4 linked regions of the Homo sapiens genome follow. The protein of the gene in region 1 interacts with the protein of each later gene in a biochemical or structural test. Each region holds a gene or a part of one and is shown in the gene's direction. Other genes may lie near its edges. The genes, in order: CUL3, KLHL6, HSF2 and SHKBP1.

Region 1 (8,079 bases):
TTAGTATATAGGATATAACTTTGGGTGTCAAATCTGGTTCAGCTTCCCCGTGGCAAGCAATTAAAATGTACTGTTAACGAACTGGGCATACTTGCCTATGTCGCTACAATAAAAGGCATACGTCAAGACAGACGAACTAGCAATCGGACAGAAGATTTTAAAAAGTAAAATTAGAGAAAGATCTTGGTCTTCCCTTCTTAGATTCATAAATACTTCATATGATGTACCAGCGAAAGAGGGGGATTTGTTGTCACTTTTTAAAGCATGCTTTTCCTGAAGCGCAGTTGCAGTGAGGAAAGACTTACCTTGATGTGATTGCCCCAGTTGAGTCAAGTGATTTAGTTTCAGAGAACATGAGGACCTCTCTGAATTCCTAAAATTTAAAAGGATACACCTCATGCAGAATTCTGAAATTGTAAGAACATAAATACTAAAGTCAGTGTGCGAAAACCTCTGCTTTGTGTAAATAGGTACGATGGAATTTAGGAGAATAAGTGTTTTGATAATAATTAAAGATTTTTTGAATGTTTCAAACTTTTTTCTAAGTAAACGTGAGAAATGTTGACAAGCGAGTACTAACGAAGCTTACTAGTATGTTTTCCCTTATAATTGGGCAGAGCTGGGTTATGCATTTGTGAGTGATATTAATTTTCCTACTAAATTCTGACCACTTTAGAGTTTAGAATTACTTAGAATTTTATGAAGTTAATAGTTGTATACAACAGATTTTCTTTTTTTTTGAGACAAGAGTTTCGCTCCTGTTGCCCAGGCTGGAGTACAATGGCGTGATCTCAGCTAACCGCAACCTCCGCCTCCTGGGTTAAAAGCCTCCTGAGTAGCTGGGATTACAGGCATGCGCCACCACACCGGGCTAATTTCGTATTTTTAGTAGAGACGAGGTTTCTCCATGTTGGTCAGGCTGGTCTCGAACTCCCGACCTCAGGTGATCACCGACCTCGGCCTCCCAAAGTGCTGGGATTACAGGAGTGAGCCACCGCGCCAGGCCTATATACAACAGATTTTCTAGCAGTGTGTGCAGCCTTACACTACTCAATTCTTGAAGTCTCATGTTCTAAATAAGATTTTTTGCTAAAATGTGGAGTAACTCAAATTTGACATCAACTCACTCAAGTTAATGGCCTTCTGATTGACCAGTTGTACGTTAATGTATGTGTAATTAAACTCTTTGACCTCTTCAGGTTTCCCTGCTCTTACCTGTTTTGCCATCATTTAATTTGTTCAGCAAATACTGAATATTATGTGCCAGGCACTGTTCTGGGGGTCTGTCAGTATAGCTAGAAAGACCAAGATCCCTGCCTTTTGGAGCTAATATTGTTGGGGAGAAGAGGTGGGAGAGAATTTCATTATTCCTTTAGCTGACCAGTATAATAACGTTGTGTGATACGTTACCACATAGTACTGGAACTGAATTTTTTTTTGTTAGCTTCGTTATGATTATGAGCTAATTTGGATCCATTCTGTCTATAACTTTTGCAGGTTTTTCTGAAAACCTTACATGAAGTAAGTGACTAGTTTTGGTATTCAGTAGTTAATAGCTGCTGATTTCTAAAAGAATTTTTCATTACTGTTTAATAAGTATTAATAACATTCCTAAGTGATTCCCATTGGAAAGAACTATTACAGTTTATGGCCCTTTGTTACAGATAGATGTATATCTCAGTGTTAGGGTGTTTCATAGATTTATCTTACTAACCGTGTGCTTATAGACCTTCAAAATTCCTGTCTTCCAGATTGGCAGTCTTGTTCATAACTACAGACTGCGTGAGTTGCTAGTCAAAAGTAGTTAATACCTAGTGTTCCGTAAAGAAAAAATATGGCCGGGCGCAGTGGCTCACGCCTGTGATCCCAGCACTTTGGGAGGCCGAGGCAGGTGGATCACCTGAGGTCAGGAGCTTTGAGACCAGCCGGGCCAACATGGTGAAATCCCATCTCTACTTAAAATACAAAAAATTAGCGGGGCGTGGTGGCGGATGCCTGTAAACCTAGCTACTTGGGAAGCTAAGGCTGGAAAATCGCTTGAACCTGTAAGGCCGAGGTTGCAGTGAGCTGAGATCGCGCCATTGCACTCCAGCCTGGGCAACAAAAGCGAAACTCTGTCTCAAAAAAAAAAATTGTTTATGGTTATACATATGTACATCCTTAATTGTTTATGGTTCCACATATGTACATATTTAAAAATTATTGTATTTTACATCTGTTGTTTGGATGTATACTTACTGTAATTTAAGGGAAACTGTAGTTTCACCAAAAGTGTCAAGCACTCGGCCGGGCAAGGTGATTCACACCTTCACACCTGTAATCCTAGCACTTCGGGAGAGGCAAGGCAGGCGGATCACCTGAGGTCCTGAGGTTAAGAGTTGGAGACCAGCCTGGCCAACATGCAAACCCCTGTCTCTACTAAAAATACAAAAATTTGCCAGGTGTGGTGATACACGCCTATAATTCCAGCTGCTCGGGAGGCTAAGGCACGAGAATCACTTGAACCTGGGAGGCAGAGGTTGCAGTGAGCCAAGATCGTGCCACTGCACTCCAGCCTGGGCAACAGAGTGAGACTGTCTCAAAAAAAAAAAAAAGAAAAGAAAAATTATATATGTTTAAGATGTACATGATGTTTTGATATATGTATACATTCTGACATGATTACTACCATCAAGCTAACACATAATCACCTCTTTTTTTTTTTTTTGAGATGGAAACTCGCTCTGTCACCCAGGCTGAAGTGCAGTGGCACGGTTTCAGCTCACTGCAACCTCCGCCTCCTGGGTTCGAGCGATTCTTCTGCCTCAGCCTCCCCAAGTAGCTGGGATTACAGGCGTGTGCCACCACGCCTGGCTAGTTTCTGTCTTTTTAGTAGAGATGGGGTTTCACCATGTTGGTCAGGCTGGTCTTGAACTCCTGACGTCGTGATCCGCCTGCCTTGGCCTCTCAAAGTGCTGGGATTACAGGTGTGAGCCGCCACGCCCGGCCAATAGTTCTGTTTTTTATGTCTGTGTGATGAGAACAAGTAAGATCTACTGCCATAGCAAATGTAAAATATGTAATATAGTATTATTAACTGTTCTTAACTGTGCTGCACATTTGATCTCCACAATGTATTCATCTTAAAACTTGTATCCTTTGACCAAAATCCACGCCCCCATTTCTTTCATTCCCCAGCCTAGGCCTTAGAGCAAGACTCTTGTCTTAAAAAAAAAAAAAAATCTCAAGCACTCATCTCAGATTGTTTTACAAAATTAACTTGTAAAAAAATATAGAATTGTGTTTTGAGATTGTTTTCATTGCAAAATAGAGTGGTAATTGAACTTACTGGATATTTTATAGATACTACTCCAGATAAATTCCCATCAGTAATATCAGATTCTTTTTAGTGTTTTGAGTGCATTTTTTTTTTCTTTTTTGAGACAGAGTCTTGCTCTGTCGCCCAGGCTAGAGTGCAGTGGCACGATCTTGGCTCACTGCAGCCTCCACCTCTTGGGTTCAACCGATTCTTGTGTCTCAGTCTCCCAAGTAGCTGGGACTACCGGTTTGCGCCACCACGTCTGGCTAATTTTTGTATTTTAAGTAGTGATGGGGTTTCGCCATGTTGGCCAGGCTGGTCTTGAACTCCTGATCTTAGGTGATCAGCCCACCGCTGTTACGCAAAGTGCTGGGATTATAGCTGTGAGCCACCGCGTTTCAGCCTTAGTGCGTATTTTAAGTATACCTTCATCATTGTCTGTAGAAGTTATAATACACAACAGTTTAATGCACAATTTGCATTTTTAAATAGACCTTTTCCTAGAAGTTCTTTTTAAGATGGAAGACAATAAGGACGTTTCTGTATTTGTAAGCTGTTGACAAAGGAAAAGTTTATTCCAGTTTATAAGCTTTCCCGCCTTGCACAAAATGTATCATTTCACATCTTTTTGATAATGTTTAAATTTTAATTTGTATGCAGAGGAACAAGGACCACAAAACTTTTTAAAGAAAGCAGGCTGTAATTGTGAAACTTCTGGAAATAATGTGGGTCTGGATCAAATAATTCTGCCCCAGGGAGTCTCTTCCTTACTCCTGGGCTTTGTTCCACTATGTAGGATTAGTTGCTTTCAGGTGAACCTTTTATTATCTTTATCTTTGAAAAATCATTTCTTACCATTTTTACTGTCTGGGGTTTTGCCCACATGGGTTTGATGAGCTTGATTAGAATTGGAGAGGATACGTTTGAATGAAAATGCTGTCCTTTCCTGTATCAAACGGTAATAAAGCCTTTCTTGGCCTAGCCTTCAGAGTTTGGGAAACCTGTTATGAAGGTGACTGTCTCCAGAATGTAATCAGGCTCTTAAGATCTCTACCCTGGGGTCCTGGAAGTAGCTTCAGTTAGTTTATAAAAGCTTGCTAACTCATCAGGAGAAAGAGTGTTATGATAAAATGCCCACTCCCTAATGCTAGAGGAACTCCACTTGTGTAGCATGGACAGCAACTGTTTGGAAGTGATTGTTAGCTGGAACATACAGGGCGACTCACATTAGTGAAGGAGTTTTATGTTCATTTGTGATATACTTAAGAACAGGAAGAGTCTTAAGGACAGATGGGTACAGTTAATCTTTTTTTTTTTTTCTTTTCTTCGAGCTACAGAAATGTTTGCCAGATTTGAGGGAACAGCTTTCATCTTCATAGTAGGTTTCTCTTTCTTAGGGAAGGTAGTTGTTGGCATAGTACTACCTGGACTGGTACATAGAGGAAAGCTGGATGGTAGTCTTGCAGATCACACTGAGCAGAGAATTAATTATAAATTTGCTTTTCATTTTTCATGTTATGAAACAAAGTGAAACAGATTCATTAAAGTGTTACTTATACTTAAACTAATACTGTTTATAGTTTTGGGACAGCCAGTATTGTCATAGCTGTTAGTACTACTATGACTTTAGAAGTTAGAAAAATAAAAGCATACGGTTGTTATTAACAAAGTATTTATTTTGTCTTGTCTTTCTAGATAGCAGTTCAGAGGAACCTGGAAAATTATTAGTACCAATATTGAATTAGAAACTATTTAAGTAATATGAAATATAATGTAAAAATTTGGCTTTTTAAGTAATACATAAATCACAAACTTGATTCAAACAAATTAGAGAATGCTTCATTTGTTTGTACATCATTCATTAAATGAAGTTAAGGGATGAAAGCATTTGTCCAGTTCAGGAAGATTATATGATTAAGGCTAGAAAAAGTGGTATGCCTTTTTTTTATATTATACATTGGGGGACTTTAAAGGGAATTTTTTGTTATTTTCATTCCAGAGTACATGGATGGTCTTTAGTAGTCCTGTTAGGTTTATATAAAAGTTACTAGACAATTTGTAGTTTTAAATAATGCAACTTTTTTTTAAAAGTAGTTCTTGTTAGCCCATTGTAAGGTCAACAGAATGTAAAGGTATTACTAGTAAGAACAAATCACTGAGTTAACACATGAATTACAATTAGTTATTAGTCTATCAGTGTCTTGTGAAAACTATTCAACCATAGTCTGTTAAAGCAATGAATTTATTTTAGTAGCTTTTCTAATTATAACAATGATGTATATTCCTGGTAGAAAAATTGATAATTATCTAAATGTACAAGTAGGGAAATAAAAAAAATCACCTGTAATCCTACCACTTGGAAACAAACAACATTAACATTTTCATGTGTTTTTGGAATTTTAATTTCATATTGTTGGCTGAACAGACAGTAAAATTAAGGTAAGATAATCATTGTATATGCTGCTGTTAAAAAATTTCTTACTGTAAATTTTTGAAAACATAGTTTTTAATGACTATCATACTTCAGTTTGCTTAACCATTTCCCTATTGCCAAATATTTTGGTTGATTCCAGGGAGTCCATATTTTTTCTGTTAAAAAAGATTGCAACTATGACTATTTAGACACATAAATATTTGAGTCCATCTATGATTATGGAATTATTGGGCTGCACGTAACTGAAATATATTACCTAATTGACCTCCATAAGGGTAATAATAATAGCTAACACTTTCTAAATGCTTATCATGTACTCTGCATATCTAAACTTAATCATTTGAGCAAACTCTATTGAATACTACTATTATCTGTTCTACAAATGAGGCTTTGAGAGGCTAAATAATTTGCTTAAGGTATTCTTCCAAGTGGCAGAACTAGGATTCTGACCCAAGCAATCTGGCTCTAAAGTGAGCACTCTTAAGAATTAATTATATTTCTCAAGGTTGTATCCGTTTAACTTCTGTGTAGCAGTATCTTACCCAGCATAATGTATGTTTAATTTTATAGGTGAAAAAATAGTACTTTAATGCTTTAATTTGCATTTCTTTGACTACTTAGGAGAATAAAACTATGAATAGTCTGTAGAGAATTTTCATTTACTTTTGCACTGGAGTATTCAACATATGAATATAGGGATGTGACTAAAAAGTAAAGAGACTGAAAGCATAGTAGTTAAGAGTGTGGGCTTGAATACCAGCTCCATGTCTTTCTAGCTGCATCACCTTTTTTTTTTTTTTTGAGACAGAGTCTCCGCTCTGTCACCCAGGCTGGAGTGCAGTGGCGTGATCTCAGCTCAGTGCAAGCTCCACCTCCCGGGTTCACGCCATTCTCCTGCCTCAGCCTCCCTGGTAGCTGGGACTACAGGTGCCTGCCACCACGCCTGGCTAATTTTTTTGTATTTTTAGTAGAGACGGGGTTTCACCGTGTTAGCCAGGATGATCTCGATCTCCTGACCTCGTGATCCGTCTGCCTCATCCTCCTACAGTGCTGGGATTACAGGCGTGAGCCACCGCGCCCGGCCTCTAGCTGCATAACCTTTAACAAGTTACTTCTTGTAGCCTCAGTTTTCCCCTGTGTAAAATGAGACTGCTAATGAGACCCACCTTACAGGTTTGTTGTGTGATAAATAAAATAAAGCTTTAAAATAGAACTTAGCAGATAGTTAACTATTATTATACCAATATTTAGCCACGATTAGGCCAATATTAAAATTGGATGTTGTTTTTGCAAGCAGTTACATCGAATGCCATACACTTATTTTAGCGATCCTGTCATTTTATTGTACAACTTCTAGAACTTAAGTTTTGAAAAGCCTGCAGAGCCAGTTTGTGAATCGTTCTAAGAAAGCATTCTCAAAGGATATGGGTTTAGTACCACTGGGATACTTAAAGAATCCTGTTGGCTCTTGAGGGGTGGCTTCAAAAACAGAAGTTCATATATGATTCACATGTAATCCTTAGAGTAAGTGTGTAACCTCTTGTAACTTTATTGAAGGAATAAACACTCATTTGGTTTGCATGTTCTATAATATGTACGTTAAATGTGCATCTAAAAACACATCTAGTTTTTCTTTTTTCCTTCCTTTCCTCCCTTTCTCCTCCTTCTCCTCCCCCCCCCCCCTTTTTTTTCACTCCTGAACTAGGTTAGGTTGTGGTCCCTGTCCAAAGCTTATGCCAGACATCGTTTTGAACCATGCAGCATTTAGCATAGTGTGAGTGGTTAGTGAATGATTGATTACATGAGAAACTAGTCCTCTAAGCCAAACCATAGTAATTGATAAATTCAGTGAGTCAGCGCAAATGATGCTCTGAAATGTTTGAAGTTTTTGTAACTCTAAGTGAAGTCTTAAGATGTAGTAGAGGGTCGTTAAAGATCATGTGGCACTTCTGTATGTAGCAGGGTAGTCAGCCTAGTCTCCTGGAAAAATGAGTTGAAATTGTCAGTGACCCTGAATTGGGAGTTAGAAGACTTAGTCTGCGGTCCAGTCTTTCTGTTTACTAGCTGTGGTCTACATTTCACTTCCTCCACCATGACTGTTCTTCGCATCTCATCCCTTCCTGTCACACTGTTAAATTGTACACTCTGGTCCCCTATTTCTCAGGCTTATCTTTTTGAATTGAGGTTTCTATTACAGTCCTTGAATTATTGGGCCCAGATGTGGTTTATTGCCACTTCCATCATCATCTTTTTTGGCTTGAGAATTACTCTCCTGCTCTCTCCCTATGACCATCTGACTTCCTGAACTCATGCTCCCTCAGTCATTGAGGAGTTTAATACCTTCCTC
Region 2 (8,079 bases), on another chromosome or scaffold:
TGAGACGGAGTTTTGCTTTTGTTGCCCAGGCTGGAGTGCAATGGCGCAATCTCGGTTCACCGCAACCTCTGCCTCCTGGGTTCAAGCGATTCTCCTGCCTCAGCCTCCCGAGTAGCTGGGATTTGCAGGCATGCACCACAACACCCGGATAATTTTGTATTTTCAATAGAGATGGGGTTTCTCCATGTTGGTCAGGTTGGTCTTGAACTCCCGACCTCAGGTGATCCACCCGCCTCCGCCTCCCAAAGTGCTGGCATTACAGGTGTGAGACGCTGCGCCCGGCTTATCACACTTTAAATTTTAGGATTTAGGCCACATTAAAAGAGAGATTGGCATCATTTAAAAGCAATGCTTACATTCTATAGTAAACCTTTTGTGTATATTTCCTTGTTCCAAAGGATGGAAAATTACTGAAGTCATGGGGACTTTTTTCCCCCTTGGTCTGACTGGTGTTGGAAACATAATGTTGTCTTTGTTAATCAACAGACATAGAGAAAAAGGATGTGGCCCCTCTTCTGGAGTTGTCAAATGACTTGTTACAAATTAGGGGCTTCTTTATGTGTAGGCAGTGTGGGGAAAGGGAAAGCAGTTACAAAGATGCTTTAGATGGGAGAGGCCTCTAGTTACGATAAACTGGTGATCTCATAGTGGGAAGGCCTGAAGTCAGGAGACTTGGTTCCTTCTTGACAGTGAAACTTTAGGCAAGTCACAAAGTGCTCTGAATGTCTGTTTCATCATCTGTAAGGTGAGCACAATGATGATCACCTTTCAGGGCTGTCATAATTAAACAAGAGCGTGAAAAGGGTCCTACACAGTGTCTAGCATATAGTAAGTAGATGCTCAATATATCTTTCTTGGAATTCTTTTTCTGATTCTGCTTGATTCAGCTAAGGATGACTTATTGAGTGTTTCCCATGAGCACGTCCCTGGGGTAGGAATTTTATAGCGCTGGGAACCCAGTGAATACACCTGATCCAGTGTTCTCCATATCAGCATGGACATGGGGGAACCAGCCTGCAAGGGCAATGTGGATAATGAAGAAAGTATTTGGGAACTTGAAAAGAAATACCCTTAGAATTCTTCTTAATGAGATTCTTCTTAACTCTTGATTCTGGCTGAGGAAATTGAAAACGATTAACCTATGAAAGTATTATGGAAAGCGTTTTCTTTCTTTCTTTTTTTTTTTTTTGAGGTGCTTGGGGGGAAACGTTTCTTTGTAATTCATAGAGCAGGATCAGCAGGTTGCTGTGGGACTCATTAGGTCTCCTGTGTTGATAAGACAAGGGGATATCTGGGTTTGAGGGAAGCAGTGGCTGCTGTGTGCCAGACAGACATAGTTATCTGATTTTATTTTTGTAACAGCATGATGAAGGTGGCTGATATTTCACAGATGAGGAAATGAAAACTCAGCATTATATATCTGGTCATTGCTGGAGCAGGGACTGGGTATGTTCTGGAAATCCTTGTTACTGCAATGCAAGCTGCCACTAGGTCTGGGACTTCATTCCATGGGAAGTGTGTAAAATATAAAGTGTAAACACAGCCATCAAAATGGGTTGATATAAACACATTACTTTCTCCACCAACCTTGATCACGTGCTTTCACGTTGACTGCAGCCCCTCTCAGGAGTGAGTGAAGTCAAGTTAGCTCAATGCCCTGGGGACGCACATTTAGGTTGATCCTTTTGTATCCCTTGCTATCATAAAATGCATACCTGGAAGCAGTTTTGTTAGCGGGTTGGCCTGGCTGTGGACCAGGCCCGCTGGCTGTGTGCCCTCGAGTTGATCACTGGTCTTCTCTGGTTCTTGGGTTTCTCATCCTAAATGGGAATTTGGGCTTGGGTCCTTCCAGCCCTGCTGATCCAGGATACTTAGGGAAAGTCTCTGCCGGTCGTCAGAGGAGGCAACGGCAATGAGAAGCTGGAGAACATGAGGGTGAAGGCATCTGACTGTGTATACAGAGCCTCTCCCAAAACTGCCTGGTCATGAGAGGAAATTCCTTCAATTCTTCTCTTCAGAGAAGTGACTTTTGCTTCTTCTCTTGGGATTTTCAACGTGACTTTCCTTCTACAATGAATACTGTCCTGGAGACAGGATTCTTTCTTCCGGTGCTACTATTCCTATCAACTCCTGTTTGTGGAGCGCTTACTGTGGGCCAGGCCCTGTAGCTTCTGTATCACATACTCTAGTCCACTCCACCCTCACAACAACCTGACAAGGCAGGGAGTCCTATCCCCAGCCTACCGACGGTGAGCCAAAGTCCAGAGTGTCACAGCAAATAAAAAGTAGCCAAGCTGGGATTTAGACCTAGGACTGACGTTAAATCTGACACACTCTCTCGCTTTGTGTCTGAGGTTTTGAAAGGGGTTCTTCGTATGCTCAGGTTTAGGGAGGTCAAAGAGTCTCTCTGTCTGAGAGGCTTTCTTTTTTTTTTTTTTTTTTTTTTTTTGAGACGGAGTCTCGCTCTGTCGCCCAGGCTGGAGTGCAGTGGCACAATCTCTGCTCACTGCAAACTCCGCCTCCAGGGTTCAGGCCATTCTCCTGCCTCAGCCCCCTGAGTAGCTGGGACTACAGGCACCTGCCACCACGCCCGGCTAATTTTTTGTATTTTTAGTAGAGACGGGGTTTCACTGTGTTAGCCAGGATGGTCTCCATCTCCTGACCTCGAGATCCACCCGCCTCGGCCTCCCAAAGTGCTGGGATTACAGGCGTGAGCCACCGCGCCCGACCAGTCTGTGAGGCTTTCAACACAGCTCTCTGTGTTTTGGAGGGCCTGGAAGCTGGTTATAAAATTATGTCATTTTTTTCCTTTATTCACTGAGAAAATAATTACTTTCCACTAAGGGACTGACAATAGTTTATTAAACAGTCCCCTACGGACAGACATCTGGACTATTTCTAATCCACATTTTGCTATTACAAACAATGTTGTAATGAATAACCTGAAACATGAGTTTTTTTCATATGCATTTCTTGAAGGGGGTTTGCTGAGTCAAATGCATCTGCAGTCTTAGCGGTTATTGCAACTTCTCTTTCATTGGGGTTGAATCATGTTGCGTTCCCCCACGGCATCACCAAAAGAGGGTGTCATCCAACCGCTGAAGTTTTACCAATCTGATAAATGAGAAAGAATATCTCAATTTAGCTTTAATTTGCATTTTTCTTATTTTTAGTAAGATCAAACATCTCTTCGTATGTTTAAGGGGCATCTGCAGTTCTTTTTTTGTTGAACTGTCTCTTCACTGCCTTTCTGTTTTTCATGTATTTTTTTAAAATTAAATTTTATTTTTTATTAAAGATATGCAAATAGTAAACAAAGCGTTAAATAGTATTTAAAGGCTTATAATGAAAAAACAAAAATTCCTATTTCCTCCTCCACCCTGTCTCATGCGCCAAAGGCTACCACTTTCAACTTCTATTTGTTTCTTCTGGCACTAGCTCTATATTTCTGCAAAATACACTTATACTGCTCTTTCTTGATTTTTCAGTGTTAGACATCATTCACTGATTTCAAATAAGGATTTAGTATCCTTACCTAACCTCTTACCATAAGCTTTCCTTCCCTGTAATCTTTCAACATAATGTTATCACAACAAGAGTTTACATTATTATGTTCACGAAAACCTTGTTCTCTGTTGAGCCAAATTACTCAATGATCACGTTTCTTTTCTTGTAAACCTTTTGTCTTTCCTGAAGTTATTAATTCACTCATTTTTTCATTTGCTTTGTTTTGGGGTGTCTTTTGCTCACAGGCTCACAAAAATCTTTCATATGGTCCAATGCATCAAACAATCTACCAGTTCCATTTCCTCAGAATCCTCCTGCCTTGCATCATGTTACACATGTTCCCTGGATTTGCACGCTGGCTGGGATTCACCTGCTTCTCCATCATTCCCCGGGACTGTCTGCTATGTTGAATGGAGCCTTCTCCCTTCAACCCCTATCTTTCTCTTCCCTGGTTTACCATCTTACCCTGATAAGCACATTCTCCAATAACTTCCTAAGAAAGAGTGCATGGGAAGTAATTTTTTTTTTTTTTTTTTTCTGAGACAGAGTCTTGCTCTGTCGCCCAGGCTGGAGTGCAGTGGCAGTATCTCCGCTCATTGCAAGCTCCGCCTCCTGGGTTCATGCCATTCTCCTGCCTCAGCCTCCCTAGTGGCTGGGACTACAGGCGCCCGCCACCACGCCCAGCTAATTTTTTTTTATTTTTAGTACAGACAGGATTTCACCATGTTAGCCAGGATAGTTTCAATCTCCTGACCTCGTGATCCACCCACCTTGGCCTCCCAAAGTGCTGGGATTACAGGCGTGAGCCACTGCGCCCAGCCCATAGGAAGTAAATTTTTAAGGCCTCGCATATATTTTTGTTTTGTTTTGAGACAGGGTCTTGGTCTGTTGCCCAGGCTGGAGTGCAGCAGCTTGATCATGGCTCACTGCAGCCTCCCTGGGCTCAAGCAATTCTTCCACCTCAGCCCCCCAAGTAGCTGGGACCACAGGATGTACCACCATGCCCGGCTAATTTTTGTATTTTTTTAGTAGAGATAGGGTTTCACCATGTTGGCCAGGCTGGTCTGGAACTCCTGACCTCAGGTGATCCACCCACCTCCGCCTCCCAAATTGCTGGGATTACAGCTGTGAGCCACCCACCACGCCTGGCCTTTCTTTGATTTTAAATAACATTTTGATATTTCACAATGATGTGCCTTGGAGGGGTGTGTGTGTGCGTGCGTGTGTGTGTGTGTATGTGTGTTTTACTCCAACCATTATGCTATGCATTTGATGAACCCTTTTAATCTGGAGAGTCACATCCTTTAATCCTGAACATTTCCTCATATTACTGCCTGGTAATTACATGGTTACTGTTTTCCTTGTTTACTATTTCTGGATCACTTATTCAGTAGATGTGGACTTCTAGAACAGTCTCTAGCTTTCTCATCTTCTCTCTCCTGTTGTCCATCCTCTTATCTTTCTGTTTTACTTTCTGGAAGATTTTTCTCAATTTTATCTTCCAACCTGTTGAGAATCTCAGTTTTTAACTTCCAAGACTTTTTTCTTGTTTTATGTATGAAGCTTCCTTTTTATAACATCCTGTTCTTGTTTTGTATAGGTCATATTTTCACTTAATCTCTTTGAGGTTTATATTTTTTAAAAAACCACTCTTCTGTTTTTGTTTGTTTTTTACTGTTTGTTTTCACTGTATTTTTCTCTTTGTTTTTGTCTCTTTTATTCTATTTTATGTATGTATTTATTTATTTCCTAGAGACAAGGTCTCCCTATGTTGCCCAGATAGTTTCAAACTCCTGGGCTCAAGGGATCCTCCTGACCCGGCCTCCCAAAGTGCTAGGATTACAAGCATGAGCCACCACACCTGGCCTCTGTCTTTTATTTTAGAGGCTATACTTAAATATCTGGTAGTCTTTGGATATCTGTTCCTATTTAAGAGTCAAGCACTAACATGGTGAAACCCCATCTCTACTAAAAATACAAAAAATTAGCTGGGCGTGGTGGCACATGCCTGTAGTCCCAGCTACTCGGGAGGCTGAAGCAGGAGAATTGCTTGAATCTGGGAGGCGGAGGTTGCAGTGAGCCAAGATCATGCCACTGCACTCCAGCCGGGGCAACAGAGCAAGACTCAGGTGTCCCGACCTGACGAGTGCCATTCAAGTTGGATTTAGCCATGAAATAAGTTACAAAAAACTTTACATTTATCAGCACTTTGGGAATTTTGAAACTACAGATAAGGGATTATAGATATATAATGCTGAAATATTTACTATCATATTGGTTCTGATCCACAATATTGGAAAATATTAAAAGTGGAAAATATAGGGCCTGACCCTGGTGTTACAATCATTGGCTTCACTTGAGTTCTCAAGTGTACCCACTGTGGCAGCAGCAATCCTCAACACATTTGCTGTTAGCCAGATTTTTAATACAGACCTACATGGCCTTAACTCATTCTTGTTTTTCTTGGCACTTATTCTCTTTTTTAAAATTTGTTTAAATTTTACTTTAAGTTCTGGGATACATGTGCAGAATGCGCGGGTTTGTTACATAGGTATACACGTGCCATGGTGGTTTGCTGCACCTATCAACCCATCATCTAGGTTTTAGGCCCTGAATGCATTAAGTATTTTTCCTAATGCTCTCCCTCCCCTTGTCCCCCACCCGCCGACAGGCCACGGGTTGTGTTGTTCCCCTACCTGTGTCCATGTGTTCTCATTGTTCAACTCCCACTTATGAGTGAGAACATGCGGTGTTTGGTTTTCTGTTGCTGTGTTAGTTTGCTGAGAATGATGGTTTCCAGCTTCATCCATGTCCCTGCAAAGGACATGAACTCATTCCTTTTTATGGCTGCACAGTATTCCATGGTGTATATGTTCTTGGCACTTATTCTATCACCTGGGCTTTCTGACTCTTTTCTGACATCTTACCCCATTATGGAGACAAAGCTCAGGATTACAACATCTACATGTGGCTTAAGAGTAGTCTCTTGCCCCACTTTTCTGCCATGCAGTAATTGGTTAATATGTAATAATGATTAACAAGTGCATAGATTGTGCTCACAATAACCTTCCCATTCCTGGCCTTATGCCTGATTTTTGTAGCTGGCGGGTAAAGTCCTCTCAACATAGCCTCAAGGAACCAGACCTAGAGACTGCGGTACAAGACAGGAGTGAGACAGGAATCCAGACAAGGATTCCAGGCAGCAGCATCAACAAAGGAGATTGCTAATGACTCAGCCTCAGCCTGGAAGCTTTTCTATGCATGAAGGAAGGGCCAGTCATGAGACAGGGCAGAGAAAAGCCTGATAACCCCTCCCCTCATCACTAGGACTCCCCTCCCTCTGCCAACCCTGGGAATCACAGCAGGGCTGCCCTCACAGGTCACTGTCACTTACAGAGTGTGCCATATTTTGCAGTGAGCTGGGCTTCCCAAATGGTGAGAACCAGTTTCTGGTTCTAGCCACAGTGAGGTCCCATATATTTTCAGAGCGCACTGTCTTTTCACCTTGCACACCCTGACCCTGCTTCCTTGTCTCTTTTTTAACCCTTTGATCCAGACTGATGTCCTAAGGCATGCTGGGTCCTTGCTGCTATGGGGGTCTGTCAGCTCAGCCCCCAGACATAAACTGGAATGAATGTTCCAACAGTATCCTGCCTGTGCATGTGTGTATGAGCACAAGGAGGCTCTGATTTTTACATTTCCTCCTCATTTTCAGCTTATGTAGCCTACACTAGCAAAAGAGTCTTGGGGAGCTGAGGGGTCATAGGAAATGACCTGTTAGCCACATTTCTGTTCTCTGTGAAGAGGCCTGTTTTCAGTTTAGACATCATGGGGAAACCACTCTTCCCATCAAAGTGAGCTCCCCCAAGGATGAAATGGACACCATGCTATCTACTTGATATTATGAAGACTGAATGAAATAAAAAGAATCCAGCAAAGTGCCTGAAAAAATGTAGGCCGTCCATATTCCAAACTGGGAAAAAATGCTTAATGCAAAGATTACCACGTCACGTATAAAAACAAAATACTGGAAGCAACCTAAATGTCCACAGTGAGAGAATGATTTTCATATTATGCCTCTGTTGAAATTGGTAGCAATATAATAAATAGTCATTATGAAAAGCATGGAGCACCGTAGGAAAAATATTATAATGAAAACAGGGGGCAAAGCAAGATGCAAAATTGCATGTAAACTATGGAAAGATATGCATGTGAGAAAAGGTAGACAAATAACACCAAAATGAAAACTGTTAACATTATCAGAAAGCCCCATAATCCCTTACCCAAAAATCTGGGAGCCAGATGTGCTTTGCCATTCAGAATTCTTTGGATATTAGCATATCTTAAATGTTATATAGCACCTCCAGCGCTCTTTAGTCTAATGCATTAGTACTTCAGCAGTGAGTATACAAATAGTTGTCCTAAGTGGAATAAATAAAGACTCTGAGGTCGGGTGCAGTGGCTTACTCCTGTAATCCCAGCACTTTGGGAGGCTGAAGCTGGTGGATCACCTGAGGTCAAGAGTTCAAGACCAGCCTGGCCAACATGGTGAAACACCGTCTCTACTAAAAA
Region 3 (8,079 bases), on another chromosome or scaffold:
TGAAGTTATATAGTAAAAAACAGCCTTTACGAGTTAATGAAATGTTACAACCAACGTATGCTGAAGTGAAGCAGTATAAAAGAAGGAAAGAACTGGAAGGTCATCCTTTTGTCAGTGTTGTTACCTTTGTCTCTGTTCTTCAGATTGTTTGAGAAAATGAAGTGATTTCCACCAAAGACTTCATACCCAGCTTTCCCCCCTTTTTGTGCCCTTTGGCATTCTCTGCTTCTCTATCCCCCTCATGTCAGCAGAGATGAATTAGGAAATAGGTAGGAGGGAGAGAGAGCAAAAACAGAATTTTTCCATTGTTTTCTAGCTGTTTTGGATGAATTTGAGCAGTAGGCCCTTGGACTTCACAAAGTGCTAGTATTGTTTTGAACATCCCAGCAACCATTGCATTATATTAGTATTTCAAAGTGAAAATAAGAAAGACTACAAGTGTGGGAGGATGGGGGTAAAATCCAACTTAGATGGACCTGCAGAAAAGTTGAAAGATTGATTTTCAAGTATTTTTATTTGTATATATAAGAGAAAGAATGAGCTAAAGACTCTAAAAGAGTAGCTGGTGCATATTAAAAATTATAGATTAGCAAGCCACAAATTTCTGTTCCGAAAAATGTTTTAAAGTAATGTGGCTGAAGTATTAGATTATTAGGAATATTTTGAGTGTTCTAACAAGAGTGCCAAAATTAATTTGGAGAGTAACGACTGTTTCTACTCTTTGGACTCTTGCCAACATTTGTGGGTAAGGTTTAAGGAGAAGGTGCCTATCTTTCCCACCTCACTCAGTAGTAGTTTTCTCATCCTTGTAAAATACTTAGGGAGATTCTGTGTTGTATTGCTTGAACCTCACAGGTTTAAAAGACAGGAAGGTGAATTTTTGCACTCAAAGAAGTTATTTACTAATTTTAGAATAGAGACTGAGGGAATACAATAAGCAGAGATAGAGTGATATGAATGAATAAGGAGTGTATGTGAGAGAGAGTGAGCACAGGTATAGCAAGAGATTATTGTCATCTCCCTATTTTATATAATCAAATAGTTGAAATTCTAAAAATTCAGTTTATTTGGCCAAAGATTAATTTAGTCAGTCACAGGTATTTGTTATGAATCTGTTATGACCTAATATTGTGCTAGGTATCAGGAATTCATTCAGTAGTGAACCAAAGTGCCTACCTTTATGGAGCTTACATTGAGTGGTGGATATCAATAAATAGTAAGCAAATACAAGCTGGGTATGGTGGTGCATGTCGTAGTTCTGGGTACTGGGGAGGCTGAGTTGGGAGGATTGCTTGAGCCCAGGAGTTTGAGGCTAGCTTGGGCAACATACTGAGACCCCTGTCTCTTAAAAAAAAAAAAAAAAAAAGTAAAAGCAAGCAAAACACAATCAATATAATTTCAGTTAGTGATAAATGCCTTTAAAAAACACCAAGATAAACTGTGTGTCGGTTAAGATGCAATCATAAGTCAGAAGCCACAGGTATTTTCAAGAGGGTAAGTTTAATAGAGTTACTGACTATATCAGGGAAATTAAAGAAAATTAAAAGAATACAAGAATAGTTTTAAGAAGCAGCCACTACTGATAGGGCTGAGATAGAGTGCCCAAGTAAGAACCTTTTTTGCCAAGGCTAAGATTCTTACCTTATTGGAAGGAATATGGCCATGACTCAGTAGCAGAGCAGTCACTGGTGTTGCTCTGGTGGAACTTACTGGAAATGCATCCTTCAAAACTTGGTGGGAAATATGCCCTCTAGGTCACGGGTTGGCAAACTGTAGTCCTTTTGCCAGCTGTTTTATAAAAAAAAGTTTAAATAGAACACAGCTATGCCCAATCTATTTACATATTGTCTGTATCTGCTTTCTCACTACAAAGGTAGAGTTATGATGTTATAATCTGCAAGCCTAATTTACTATTTGTCCCTTTAAGAAAAAGTTTATAAATCCCTGTTCTGGAGTACTCTAAAAAACTGTTTATGGGGAGATATCTTGTTAGAGATACTCTGCTTTGAAACCTCCCAAGGGAGAGGAAGCACCAGTGAAAGCTGATGGTCTTTGAGTGTTGCTGACCACCATTAATATCAAGAGCTAGGCACTGGAGAAGCTGCCTCCACTGCAGAAGCTTGCCAAGGATACATGAGTCAGGAACAAGAGCTCCTTTTTCTTGTAATATCTCTCTTTTATCCCCTGCTGACAGAACTTAACATCATGGCACCTAGAAAAAGAAAGATATTTATTTAAGGAACCAAGCTCTATGCTTGTAGAGCAGACAATGAAGAATGAATTTGGAGCAATAAATTGATAACTGGCCCATAAACAGACTAGGATTTGTGAATATTTTAGGTAAGGTGATGAGGAAAGCCTCTCCAAGGAGACGATGTTTGAGGAGAGATCTAAATGATTAGAAAAGATGGGCCAAAGGGGAATGACAAAAGGTAAGGCCTTGAATGTGGCTGTTCAAGGAAGCAGGAAGGCCCATGTGATTAGAATATCTTTAGGGAATTAGGAGAGTGAGAGTAGGGAGGTAGGCAGGAGCAGATGGTATAGGGCCCTAGATCTATAGTAAGAAGATTGGAAATGAGGGGACCAGTTAGAAGACTATCACAGTTTTCCTGTATGGTATTGAAAATATTGATGGCTGAGACTAAGGTAGCAGCAGTCAAGGTATTGAGATGTAGCTTTGAAATCTTTGAAGGCAAAGCTGCAGGATTTGCTGATAAATTGATAAATTGGCTATGGTTGGAGGAACGACAATTAAAAATGATTCATAAATTTGGTTTGAACTACAGGATAAATCCATTTGCTGAGGAAAGATGTTAGAGATTCTTTTTGGCATATTAACTTTGAGATTAAAAATGGATCTCTAGTAGTATTTGAAACAACTTGAAAATTGTTTAATTTTTCTTAAATTTGACCATGCCTAGTCATATGGCCACACCTAATTTCAAAAGGGATGAGGAAGTGCAGTGCTAGAAAAAAAAACAGGAGTATTTTTGAACAGCTTGACTGACTTCCACACTCCAAAATGTCCAAGTGGAAATGTTGAATAGGTGGTTGAGTATAAGACTTTGGCATTCAGGGTGGAGTTTAGACCTTGTAACTGGTAAAGCCAGGAGACTTAATGAAATCATCTTCTGTGAAGATAGAAGGAACCAAAAGATGTATTATTCCAACATTTAGAGAGTATGAAGACAAAAGCCAGCAAAGGAGGCTGAGACGGAACAGTGAAAAAGAAGGAAAATCAAGGGAGTGAACCCACAGAAGTTAATGAAAGAAAATGGCTCAGGAAAGAGATCAACTGTGTCACATGCTGTTAGGAATATTCTTGTATATCTCTCCTGGTGTATATAAGCAAGAGTTTCTCTAAGGTCTGTACACTCATGTGACTTGCTGGGATATAGGATATGAAATGTCTAACCTCAAGATAGTGTGAATTATCTTCCAAAGAGATCACACCAGCTTATTCCGCTATTAGCCATGTATGAGATTTTCTGTTAATCTGCCTCTTCAAAACTGTGTATTAGTTATCGTTCTTACTTTTTACCAATCTAATTGATGTAAAGCATTGTCTCAATGAGGTTTTGATTTATATTTTCTTGATTATTAATGAGTTCTAAAACCTTTTCACGTTCGTTGGCCATTTGTGTTTCCTGTTCTGTGAAATGTTTGTTTTGCCATTTTTCTGTTTTTTTTTTTATTATTTGTGAGAATTCCTATATATTCTACATATTCGAGTTTATGTTTTGGCCATATCTTCCAGTTTGTGGCTTTTTACATTTTAGTTGTCTAGCACCTTTACTGAGTAGTTCTTCCTTTTCCAATGATCTATATTGCCACTTCTATCTTACGTCACAAGTACGTGTAGATATTGTCTTAATCAGTTGGGCTGCCGTAGCAAGATATCATAGACCAGGTGGCTTCAACAACAGGCGTTTATTTTTTACAGTTCTGGAGGTGGAGAAGTCCAAGATGAAGGCAGTGGCCATTTCAGTTCCTGTGTTAGAGCTTTCTCTGCTTTGCAGACAGCTGCCTTCTCTCTGTGTCTTCCCAATGGCAGAGAGAGAGAGAGAGAGAGAGAGAGTGTGTTCTGGTCTCTCTTATCTTATAAGGACACCAACCTAACCTGGGGGGTCCTATCTTCATTACCTCCTCTGAACCTAATTACCTCCCAAAGGCTCTAACTCCAAATACCATCATATCAGGGGCAAGGGTTTCAACATAGAATTTTGGGGGACACAAACATTCAGTGGTTTTGTTTCTGGAGTCTTTATGCCATTCCATTGGACAATTTATCCTGTGCCTGTCTTCTGCTGTCTTAATTACTGTAGCTTCAGAAAAAGTCTTTTGGTAGGGTAATCTATCCTTCAGGAGTGCCTTAAGTATTTTTGGTCTTTAGCTCTTCCACATATGTTTTAAAATCAAGTTCCATAAAAAAAAAAAAAGCCTTTTGGATTTTTGCTGCAATTGGATCAAAACTATATAAATCAGATTAGGGAAAATCGATATCTCTGTGTTGTGTATTCTCATGACAAGGCATATTTCTAAATTCATTTTGTTGATTTATGTTTGCTATTAGGCCTTGTGGATCTTTGTTCATTTTCTTCCTGGATATCTTATATATGTTGTAAATGGTGTTCTTGACTTAAAAATAGATTTCTAGCTGTTGCTGGTAATTAGAAATACAAGTAATTTTTGTATATTGATAATAAATCAGTGAGCAAATCATTTTACTGATTTCAGTTTTCTGAGTACACCCATAGTATCTGTGATTGACATTTATTTTCTTCCTTTCAGACCTTTATGCCTTCCGTTTTTCTTTTGGCAGTAACTAAGAGTGAGTAGAAGCAATTATCATGGCATTCTGGCTTTGTTCTTAATTTTTAAAGGGAATGTTTTAATGTTTCCCCCTTACTAGCTGTTAGAATGAGAGTTTTTAACTTCATTTTTTTTTTTTTTTTGACATCAAATGTTGTCGGGTGACTTAGTGAGGAAGGGACTTGGTAGAATGGAAGACACAAGAAAAGATTGACTTCCGGGGAAACAGGAAATGGGTTTAGAACATACTGAGTTAAAGAACATAGTGTAAAAAATGTTAACATTTTAAATTGAAGTGTGTAATTTGAGATGATCAGGGACAGAGCTGTAGATGTGTTTATTATAAAATAAAGTCAATAATAAGATACCCTACTGTGGATGAATTCTAAGGAAAGAATATGAATGGTGCCACGATTAAGGATAAAAACCTGGAAAATACAGCTACCTCTTATTTGATAGGTGGAAGAAAATTGAAAGGAAATATAAGAGATAAGAGACTCAACAGTGTTTAGCATCAAAGCCCAGAGAGTCGAACATTTAAGGAGGAGATTGTTAGTTGTACCAAATGAAATGCCACAGAGAGGTGTAGGAAGATCAGGACTGAAAAGAGGGCATTGAATTTGATATTTGACATTTTAGAAATCTGGTTTCAGTCGAGTGAGGGAACCAAAAGCAGTTTTCAGTGAGAGTAAGTGGATGGTCCTGAATTGGAGAAGGGGGGTTTAAAATACCTGCTTGTTAAATTTTGCAGTTAAGGAAAAGACAGATGGGTAGATTGAAAAAGAAGGTATAAGAGGGAAAGTTCTTTTAAGATAGGAAAAGACGTATGCATTTTAAGCATTTTAATTTTGATAATTACCTAGTTGCCAATACTGGTTATTGTCAAGGGTTGTAAATTTAATCTAATAAGGGAAAATCATTATTTGTTTTGCTCTACATTCTTCATTTATGAGTCTGGGTCTCTTCTAAATTTCACAATGTGTTTTTCATCAAAATTGTGTTTCTGTTAGGAAGAAAGTAGAGGAGAGTAGAGATAGAGTAGGAAGCTAGCAGTCTCCATGGATAAATTTATATTTTATCTATATGTCTTCTGGGTTTATTATGTCATGTCTCCAAAAGCTTGCTTGTAAAGAGTAAGATGACATCGAGCTCTTATTTTTCTTCCCAAATGGAAAATTTCTTAATCCTTTTCTTTCCTGATTATCCCCCCATTTGAATGCCATCTTGACTTACTACCTGGTAAATTCTCAGATAGATTTGCTGGTTCATCTGTCCTCTCTAGTCAGTCCATTCATCTATGTAATCACTTCTTCTTTTGTACTAAATTGTTAACACTATAATTTTATAATCTGTATTGGGTAGGGTTAAAATACTCCTCCCCATTGTTCTCAATATTTTCTTTCCTGTTGTTATGTAATTATTTTTACAAATGAACTTATGTACCTAACATTTGGTTATGATAGCATCAATTCATCTTTACTCCACAAATCATTTTTTTAATTAAGACAGAATTTAATGTATTGGTTAATTTAGAGAGAATTGACACCTTTACAATACTGCATTTGTCTTCCTTTTGTATTTCTATAGTTTTAATATTTTTAAAGTTCCTGTATATTTTTAAATTTTATTTTTAGATACTTAACATTTTTCTATTATTATTGGGATATTTTATTCCATTTTAGTTTCTAATTTTTTTAATTGTGGTAAAATATACATAACATAAAATTAACCATTTTAAGTGCATTAAGTTAGATTCACATTGTTAGGCAACCATTACCACCATCCATCTCCAGAACAATTTTTATCTTTCCACACTGAAACTTTATACCCATTTCACAATAACTTCTAACTCCTTCCTCCCCGCAGCCCCTGACAACCACCATTCTACTTTTTGTCTCTGAAATTGGCTATTATGGAAACTTCATATAAGGGGAATTGTACAGTATTTGTTCTTTTGTGACTGGCTTATTTCACAGCATAATGTTTTCAAAGTTCTTTTCATGTTGTAGCTTGTGAGAATTTCCTTTTTTAGGTGAAATAATATTTCATTGCATGTATATACCATACTTTATCCATATATATTTCACCATGTGTTGGTGGATACTGAAGTTACTTCTACCTTTTGCCTGTTGTGAAAAATGCTACTGTGAACATGGGGTACAAATATCTGTTCAAGTCGTTGCTTTTATGGTTTTTTTTGTTTTGTTTTTTTGTTGTTGTTTTTGGGTTTTTTTTTTTTTTTTGAGTATATACCTAGGAATGGAATTGCTGGATTATATGTTCTTTGTTTAATTTTTAAAGGAACTATCATAGTGTTTTCCACAGCAACCACACTATTTTAACATTCCCACCAATAATGCACCAATATTCCAATTTCTCCACTTCCTTGTGAACACTTGTTTTATGCGTTTTTGATAATAGCCATTCTAATGGGTGTGCAGTGGTATATTGTTTTAGTTTTGATTTTCATTTCCCTAATGATTTGTGTTACTGACCATCTTTTTATTTGCTTATTGGAAGTTTGTATATCTTCTTTGAAGAAATATCTACTCACATCCTTGCTCGTTTTTTATCGGGTTGTTTGGGTTTTTTTTGTCTTTTGTTCTTTTTGAATTTTAAGAGTTATGTCTATGTTCTGGATATTAACTCCTGAGGTATATGATTTGCACTTTCTTCTTTCCATTCTGAGGGTTGCCTTTTCAGTCTGTTGGTAGTCTTTAGATTTGATGTAGTTCCATTTGTCTATTTTTGCTTTTGTTGCCTGTACTTTTAGTGTTACATTTAATAAATCATTGCCAAGTCTAATGTCATGCTCTACTATTGTTAAAAGTTTCTTTAGCTCTTGTGTTTAGGTCTTTGATTGATTTGAAGTTAGTTTTTATATATGTTATCAGATAAGGGTCTAACTTCATTTTTTTGTATGTAGATATCCAGTTTTCCCAGCACCATTTGTTGAAAAGACTGTCCTTTTTTTATTGAATGGTCTTGACACTGTTGTCAAAAATCCTTTGGCAGGGTTTATTTCTGGGCTGTCTATTTTATTTCATTGATCTATATGTTTGTCAGTATGCCAGTACCATGCTACTTTGATTACTTTATTTTTGTAGTGTTTCCAGGTGTTTGTTTTTTGTAGAGAAAAACACTAGTGACTTTTAATATTAATTTAGTAACCACGTATCTTACTGAATTCTTAAAGGGTTTTTAAATTGATTTTACAAAGATACAATTATGTCTACTATGTCTACTGCAAATAATTATAAAATGGTA
Region 4 (7,092 bases), on another chromosome or scaffold:
ATGCCACTATTATGTCATTTTTCTTTGTTTTTTGAGACAGTCTCGCTTCGTCACCTAGGCTGGAGTGCAGTGGCGCAATCATAGCTCACTGCAGCCTCACCCCCTGGGCTCAAGTGATCCTCCTACTTCAGCCTCTTGAGTAGCTGGGATCATAGGTGAATGCCATCACACCCAACTAGTTTTTTAAAAATCTTTTGTAGAGATGAGGGTCTCACTATGTTGCCCAGGCTGGCCTCAAACGCCTGGCCTCAAGCAATCTTCCTGCCTCGGCCTCTGTTCTCTGTTTTACTTTCTCTTTCCTCTCTTATTTGCTGTTTCACTGTTACAATTTCTGTCTCTGGGCCTCTCCTCCTTTGACCTGTGCCTTTGTCTCCCTGTTCCTCCATTTCCCACATCTCATCACCATCTTTTTGTGTCCTTCCCTCTCTCCTTGCTTTCTGACTGTGTCTCTGTTCTGTGTCTCTTTCTTTCTTTCTTTCTTTTTTTTTTTTTGAGACAGAGTCACATTCTGTCATGCAGGCTGGAGTGCAGTGGCGTGGTCTTGGCTCATTGCAACCTCTGCCTCCTGGGTTCAAGCAATTCTCATGCCTCAGCCTTCTGAGTAGCTGGGATTACAGGTGCGTACTACCACCACCAGCTAATTTTTGTATTTTTACTAGAGACAGGGTTTCAGCACGTTGGCCAGGCTGGTCTTGAACGCCTGACCTCAAGCGATCCACCCGCCTCAGCTTCCCAAAGTGATGGGATTACGGCGTGAGCCACCGTGCCCGGCCTCTCCTTGCTTTCTGACTGTGTCTCTGTTCTGTGCCTGTTTCTTTCTCCCTGCCCTGGTTTCTGTCTCTGTGGCCCAGGCCCTCTCCTCATCCTTGGCCCCTCACCAGGTGACAGTGGGAACTGGATCGAGATCGCCTATGGCACCAGCTCAGGGGGCGTGCGGGTCATCGTGCAGCACCCGGAGACTGTGGGCTCGGGGCCTCAGCTCTTCCAGACCTTCACTGTGCACCGCAGCCCTGTCACCAAGATCATGCTGTCGGAGAAGCACCTCATCTCAGGTGAGCCTCTGTGGGGTGCTCCAGTGCTGGGAGAGACAGCTCAGATGGGAGTGTGGAGACAGGAGGATGAGAATTTCCACTGGGGAGGGACATTGTGTAGGAAGAGAGCTCTGGCGGAGAGGATTGACCTGGGATGGGACTGTAATTGCAGAAGTGAGAGAATACCATAGGGGATCAGTCTGGGGAAGAGTGAATCTGTGTGTGTTTGGGAATCCATCAATTCAGCAACGATTTACGGGGCACCCACCATGTGCCAGGCATAGGGGATACAGTGATGAACAAGACAGGCCAAGTCCCTGCCCTCGTGGAGCTGACATTCTAGCAGCGATGGCAGACAATAAATCTATAAAAATGGACATCAATGGCCAGCTGCGGTGGCTCACACCTATAATCCCAGAACTTTGGGAGGCCAAGGCGGGTAGATTACTTGAGGTCAGGAGTTCGAGACCAGCCTGGCCAACATGGTGAAACCCCACCTCTACCAAAAATATAAAAAATTAGCCAGGTGTGGTGGCACGTGCCTGTAATCCCCGCTACTCGGGAGGCCGAGGGAGGAGAATTGCTTGAACCTGGGAGGCGGAGATTGCAGAGAGCCCAGATCATGCTACTGCACTCCAGCCTAGGCAACAGAGCGAGACTCCATCTCAAAAATAAATAGATAAAAATGCAAATCAGGCTGGGCACTGTGGCTCATGCCTATAATCCCAGCACTTTGGGAGGCCAAGGTGGGAGGATTGCTTGAGGCTAGGAGTGTGAGACCAACCTGGACAACAAAGTGAGACATTGTTTCTACAAAAAATTTTTAAAAAATTAGCCAAGTATGGTGGCATGCACCTGGGGTCCCAGCTTCTTGGGAGGCTGAGGTGGAGGGATCACTTGAGCCCAAGAGTCAGGGGCTGCAATCAGCTATGATTGCACCCCTGCACTCCAGCCCAGGCAACAAAGCAAGACTCTATCTCATAAAATATTAATAAAATAATCTAAATCAACACCAGGCAATGATAAGGGCTATGAATAAACATGAAGCTGTGTGTGGCTAGAGAGTGTCAAGTCGCTGGAGAGGGGTCATTCAGGGAAGGCCTGAGGAAGGACCTTTGAGCAGAAATAACAGAATGAGCAGTGCAGATTGGTAGGGACAAGCATTCAGGCCGAGGGAACAGGCATTGCAAAGGCTCTGAGGTGAGAGGATGCCTGAGGAAGTGCAGGGAGCCACTTGTGCCTGGAACAGAGTAAATGAGGGGGAGAATGGGAGGAGATGAGGGTATGGAGGTGACAAGGGCAGGAGCCACAGAGGGCTCCGAGCAGGGGAGGGACATGACTAGCTTCAGGTGTTCACAGGCTCCACCTGGCTGCCCGTGGGAGCACACTACTGGGATAGGACAGGAGCAGGGACCTCTGGGAGGGGCGTGCTGATACGGTCCAGGCAGGTGACGAAATGGACCAGGACCGGTGTGGGGCAGAGGATAGGGCAAGGTGAGATCAGGCTCTGGAACAGTTTTGGAGGCAGAGGCAACAGGGTTTTTAACATTTGGAATTCTGGGGAGGAAAGGATTCTCTGAAAGGGAAGAACTCAGCAAGGGCTGACCCTCCTGAAACGGGGCTGTCCTGAGGCTCTGGACGGGCAGGCAGCATTGATGCCTGCACCAGGCCTGACTTCCTGCTCTCCTTGTGCCCCTCAGTCTGTGCCGACAACAACCACGTGCGGACATGGTCTGTGACTCGCTTCCGCGGCATGATTTCCACCCAGCCCGGCTCCACCCCACTCGCTTCCTTTAAGATCCTGGCTCTGGAGTCGGCAGATGGGCATGGCGGCTGCAGTGCTGGCAATGACATTGGTGCCTACTGGCTCCTGGCCTTCCCACCCCACTGACCCCCTTACCTGACCCCTGTTGACCTCCGCTGATTCCCACTTGCGGCCACCTGACCCAGGAGCCTGCAACGATTGGGGTGTCCTGATCCTTGAGGCACCTGAGCTCCACTGACTGCCACAACCCCCCAGCCCTCTCTGGCCCTGCCCAACTCTAACAACCTGGGGATGGGACTGGGGTCTTGGGGTGGTGGGTTTCATCAGTGGGGAAGGAAGTCTGAGGCTGAGGGAATCCCAGCTGGCCCTGACCCCTGCCCCTGCCTGGCCCAGGCCCCTACGGTGAGCGGGACGACCAGCAAGTGTTCATCCAGAAGGTGGTGCCCAGTGCCAGCCAGCTCTTCGTGCGTCTCTCATCTACTGGGCAGCGGTGAGGACAGTCCTGTCCAACAGGGAGGGAGGACAGTCCTGTCCAACAGGGAGGGAGGTCAGGGGAGAAGGCAAGATGCTAGCCAGATCACTGAGGCCAGAAAGGGGTCCCAGCCAAGGAGCATTGAAGGAGCAAAGGCTGGGAGGGAGGACAGGCCTGGTAGGTTTGTCTTCTGGTATCAAAGGTGTGACAGGTGTTGGTGGGACTGACCTGGCGCAGTGCCAGCCCAGTGCAGGCAGGGCCAGGTTGAAGGCACAGGGGGTGGGGTCAGGGTGGGATGGGGGGCCCAGGCGGAGGGGGAGGGGTGGGATGGGGGCCCAGGGGGAGAGGTCGGGGTGGGATGGGGGGACCAGGGGGAGGGGTTGGGGTGGGATAGGGGGACCAGGGGCAGGGGTCGGGATGGGATGGAGGAGACCCAGGGAGCTGTAGGAGCCTTGCTTCAGCTGGGAAAGGGGCCTCGGAGGATGTTCTGGATGAAGGGACTCTGAGCAGAGACCTAGAGGACAAGTAGGAAGGAGCAGAAGAAAGAAGGCAGGGGAAGGGGGCCCCAGCCTGAGGGAACTGTATGTGCAGAGGCTGAGAAGGGCCAAATAGGGTCACATGGGAAGGACACGTGGGCTCCTGGGCTGGAGCACAGAACAGGAGGTGAGGATGGGGTGCAGATGCGGGCGGGCCTTGTCAGGCTGTGGAAGGGCTGAGGCTTTGTCCTGTGCGGGGAGCCGTGGCCACTGCATGGGGGATGAAAGGAGGCTTGATGGGAGGCCAGGAGCCCAGGGAGGAGGCCAGGAGGCTGATAGGAGGTGGGGGAGCAGCTGGGACGGGCCTCAGGTCTTCCCTGCAGTGGGAGCAGGGAAGAGCAGAAGCTCTGGGAGACTCCCTGGGTGTTTGGGGCTGCGGTGTCCAAGAGCTGCTGGACCCTTGGGACTGGAACTCAAAAGCAGGCTAGGGATGGATAAAGATTGGGATGGCCCCTGGAGAGGCAGGAACTGCAGCCACAGTGGTGGGGACTGGGACGAGGAAGGGTGAGAAAGCGAGGGTGACCACCTCCCCCACTGCACCCCCCAGGGTGTGCTCCGTGCGCTCCGTGGACGGCTCACCCACGACAGCCTTCACAGTGCTGGAGTGCGAGGGCTCCCGGCGGCTCGGCTCTCGGCCCCGGCGCTACCTGCTCACTGGCCAGGCCAACGGCAGCTTGGCCATGTGGGACCTAACCACCGCCATGGACGGCCTCGGCCAGGCCCCTGGTACTCCCTGCCCCACCCCAATCCCGTCCCAAGCCCCACAGCCTCACCCAGAACCACTCTCCACTGCCAACTGCTTGATCTCTCTCCCAGGCCCTTGCCCTCTGACCCCTTTTCCTTTGACCCCCTCTCTGCTCCCCATCCCTTCCTGCCCTTGTTTTTCAACCCCTGTCTCAGCCTCTGGCCCCCATGCATTGATCTCTGCTTCCTCTCTCCTGTCCTGACCCTCGGTGCTTGCACTGCAATGCAACCCAGGCCCTTGCCCTATGACCCCTGTCTTGCCCCCTGACCCTGCTTCCGTGCCCCCCAGCAGGTGGCCTGACGGAGCAAGAGCTGATGGAACAGCTGGAACACTGTGAGCTGGCCCCGCCGGCTCCTTCAGCTCCCTCATGGGGCTGTCTCCCCAGCCCCTCACCCCGCATCTCCCTCACCAGGTAGCCACAACTCCACTGCCCCTTCTGTGCAATGAGGGGAGAGGGGACAGCATGGTGTTCCCGGGGACAGAGTGGCCCAGCTGCCCCGTGATGACGTGCACTTACTGTCCTTACTTCCTCAGCCTCCACTCAGCCTCCAGCAACACCTCCTTGTCTGGCCACCGTGGGAGCCCAAGCCCCCCGCAGGCTGAGGCCCGGCGCCGTGGTGGGGGCAGCTTTGTGGAACGCTGCCAGGAACTGGTGCGGAGTGGGCCAGACCTCCGACGGCCACCCACACCAGCCCCGTGGCCCTCCAGCGGTCTCGGCACTCCCCTCACACCTCCCAAGATGAAGCTCAATGAAACTTCCTTTTGAACAACGCAGCTGCCATGATGCCTTGGGATGCCCTGGTCCTGGGGGACTCAGGTGCCTCCCTGATTCCTGTGGGAACCCCGGGTTCAGGGCCAGGGCCTCCTTGGAATAAATGGTTATTGTTACTAGGTCCCCACCTTCCCTCTTTTCTGGAAGCCAAAGTCACCCTCCCCAATAAAGTCCTCACTGCCAACATCTTGCTTATTCTTAGCAGGTTTGGGACTCCCCAGGAAAGGGGTGGGGAAGATGTGGGACCCAACCCGATATATGCAAAATCAGGAACATCTACCTCTCTTGTTTAAGCAAAGGGAGGCCAGGCATGGTGGCTCACATCTATAATCCTGGCACTTTGGGAGGCCAGTTTGCTTGTGCTCAGAAGTTTCAGACTAGCCTGGGCAACATAACAAAACCCCATCTCTACAAAAAAATACAAAAATTAAGCAGGCATGGTGGTGCATGCCTGTGGTCCCAGCTTCTTGGGAGGCTGAGGTGGGAGGATCGCTTGAGCCTAGGAGGCCAAGGCTACAGTGAGCCATGATCACACCACTGCACTCCAGCCTGAGTGACAGAGTGAGATCCTGTCTCAAAAACAAAACAAAACAAAAAAGGTGTTGCAGGGGAGGAATGTGTTGGCTTTTACTCTGCCTTCAGGCATGGCTGGATCCGGGGCTTCAAACACTAATTCAGAATATCTTTTTTTCTTTTTTCTTTTCTTTTTTAAAGTCTCACTCTGTCATCCAGGCTGGAGTGTAGTGGTATGATCTCAGCTCACTGCAACCTCCACCTCCCGGGTTCAAGCAATCGCAATCCTCCTGCATCAGCCTCCCGAGTAGCTGGGATTACAGGTGTGCACCACCATGCCCAGCTAATTTTTTTATTTTTAGTAGAGACAGAGTTTCACCATATTGGCCAGGCTGGTCTCGAACTCCTGACCTCAGGTGATCTGCCCACCTCAGCCTCCCAAAGTGCTGGGATTACAGGCGAGAGCCACTGTGTCCGGCCCAGAATATCTTTTTATCTCCTAACTTCACTTACCTCTGGAATACATCTTCAATCAGGTTTTCTCTCTGTGGCAAGGTGACTCTAAGCAGCTGCTTAGCAACTCTTTCTTCCCTAGCAACAGCAAAAATCACAAGACTGATTTTCATTGGCTTGAATTAAGTCAGGTGGCCATTCCTGAACCAATTACTGTGGCCAGTGTGATGAAGGCCTTCCATTATTGCAGCCTGGATCATGTGTCCTGCTGTATTTTTAGTAGAGGCAGGGTTTCACCATGTTGGCCAGGCTGGTCTCAAACTCCTGACCTCAGATGATCCACCTAACTCGGCCTCCCAGAGTGCTGGGATTACAGGCGTGAGCCACCTTTCCTGGCTGGCCTTGGGATTTTTTTTCCCCAAATAATGCCCGTTCCTACGGCACTTCCTTGAGGAGATTTTCTGCATCTTTTTTCCTTGTGCCAATAAAAAAGGGACAGAAAGTGGGGACAGACTAGGAGTAGAGAATACTAGAACATGCTAATTCTAGAATTCCATAGTTTCTGGAATGCCAGAGCTTCTGAAACATAGTAGAGAGGGGTCTCGAACATTAGGACATCTCGGACACAAGGATATTCTGGAGTGCTCATGGATTAACAATATTAGAGTTCTCCCCTGCTTATCAGAGAATCCAGAATATAGAAGTTTCTGACAAAAAGGACCTGAAAAATCACTGATTCTAGAATAGGGGAGTGTCAAGGGGAGTTCATACCCATGAATCTCCACCGGTAGGAATATCTTGCATG

What was found.
Region 2: the proteins of CUL3 (region 1) and KLHL6 form a complex in vitro, tested with the Homo sapiens proteins (one study listed by BioGRID).
Region 3: the proteins of CUL3 (region 1) and HSF2 form a complex in vitro, tested with the Homo sapiens proteins (one study listed by BioGRID).
Region 4: the proteins of CUL3 (region 1) and SHKBP1 form a complex in vitro, tested with the Homo sapiens proteins (one study listed by BioGRID).

What each region holds. Positions count from the first base shown.
Region 1 is NC_000002.12:224,576,024-224,584,102, reverse strand, and holds part of CUL3 (cullin-3), read left to right. Parts: intron 1-8,079. UniProt on the Homo sapiens protein: Core component of multiple cullin-RING-based BCR (BTB-CUL3-RBX1) E3 ubiquitin-protein ligase complexes which mediate the ubiquitination and subsequent proteasomal degradation of target proteins.
Region 2 is NC_000003.12:183,547,088-183,555,166, reverse strand, and holds part of KLHL6 (kelch-like protein 6), read left to right. Parts: intron 1-2,840; exon of another isoform or gene 2,841-3,114; intron 3,115-6,203; exon of another isoform or gene 6,204-6,432; intron 6,433-8,079. UniProt on the Homo sapiens protein: Involved in B-lymphocyte antigen receptor signaling and germinal center formation.
Region 3 is NC_000006.12:122,403,910-122,411,988, forward strand, and holds part of HSF2 (heat shock factor protein 2), read left to right. Parts: intron 1-8,079. UniProt on the Homo sapiens protein: DNA-binding protein that specifically binds heat shock promoter elements (HSE) and activates transcription. In higher eukaryotes, HSF is unable to bind to the HSE unless the cells are heat shocked.
Region 4 is NC_000019.10:40,585,893-40,592,984, forward strand, and holds the end of SHKBP1 (SH3KBP1-binding protein 1), read left to right. Parts: intron 1-851; coding exon of another isoform or gene 852-881; coding exon 882-1,052; intron 1,053-2,731; coding exon 2,732-2,887; intron 2,888-3,189; coding exon 3,190-3,286; intron 3,287-4,351; coding exon 4,352-4,530; intron 4,531-4,837; coding exon 4,838-4,961; intron 4,962-5,083; coding exon 5,084-5,315; 3' UTR 5,316-5,505; downstream 5,506-7,092.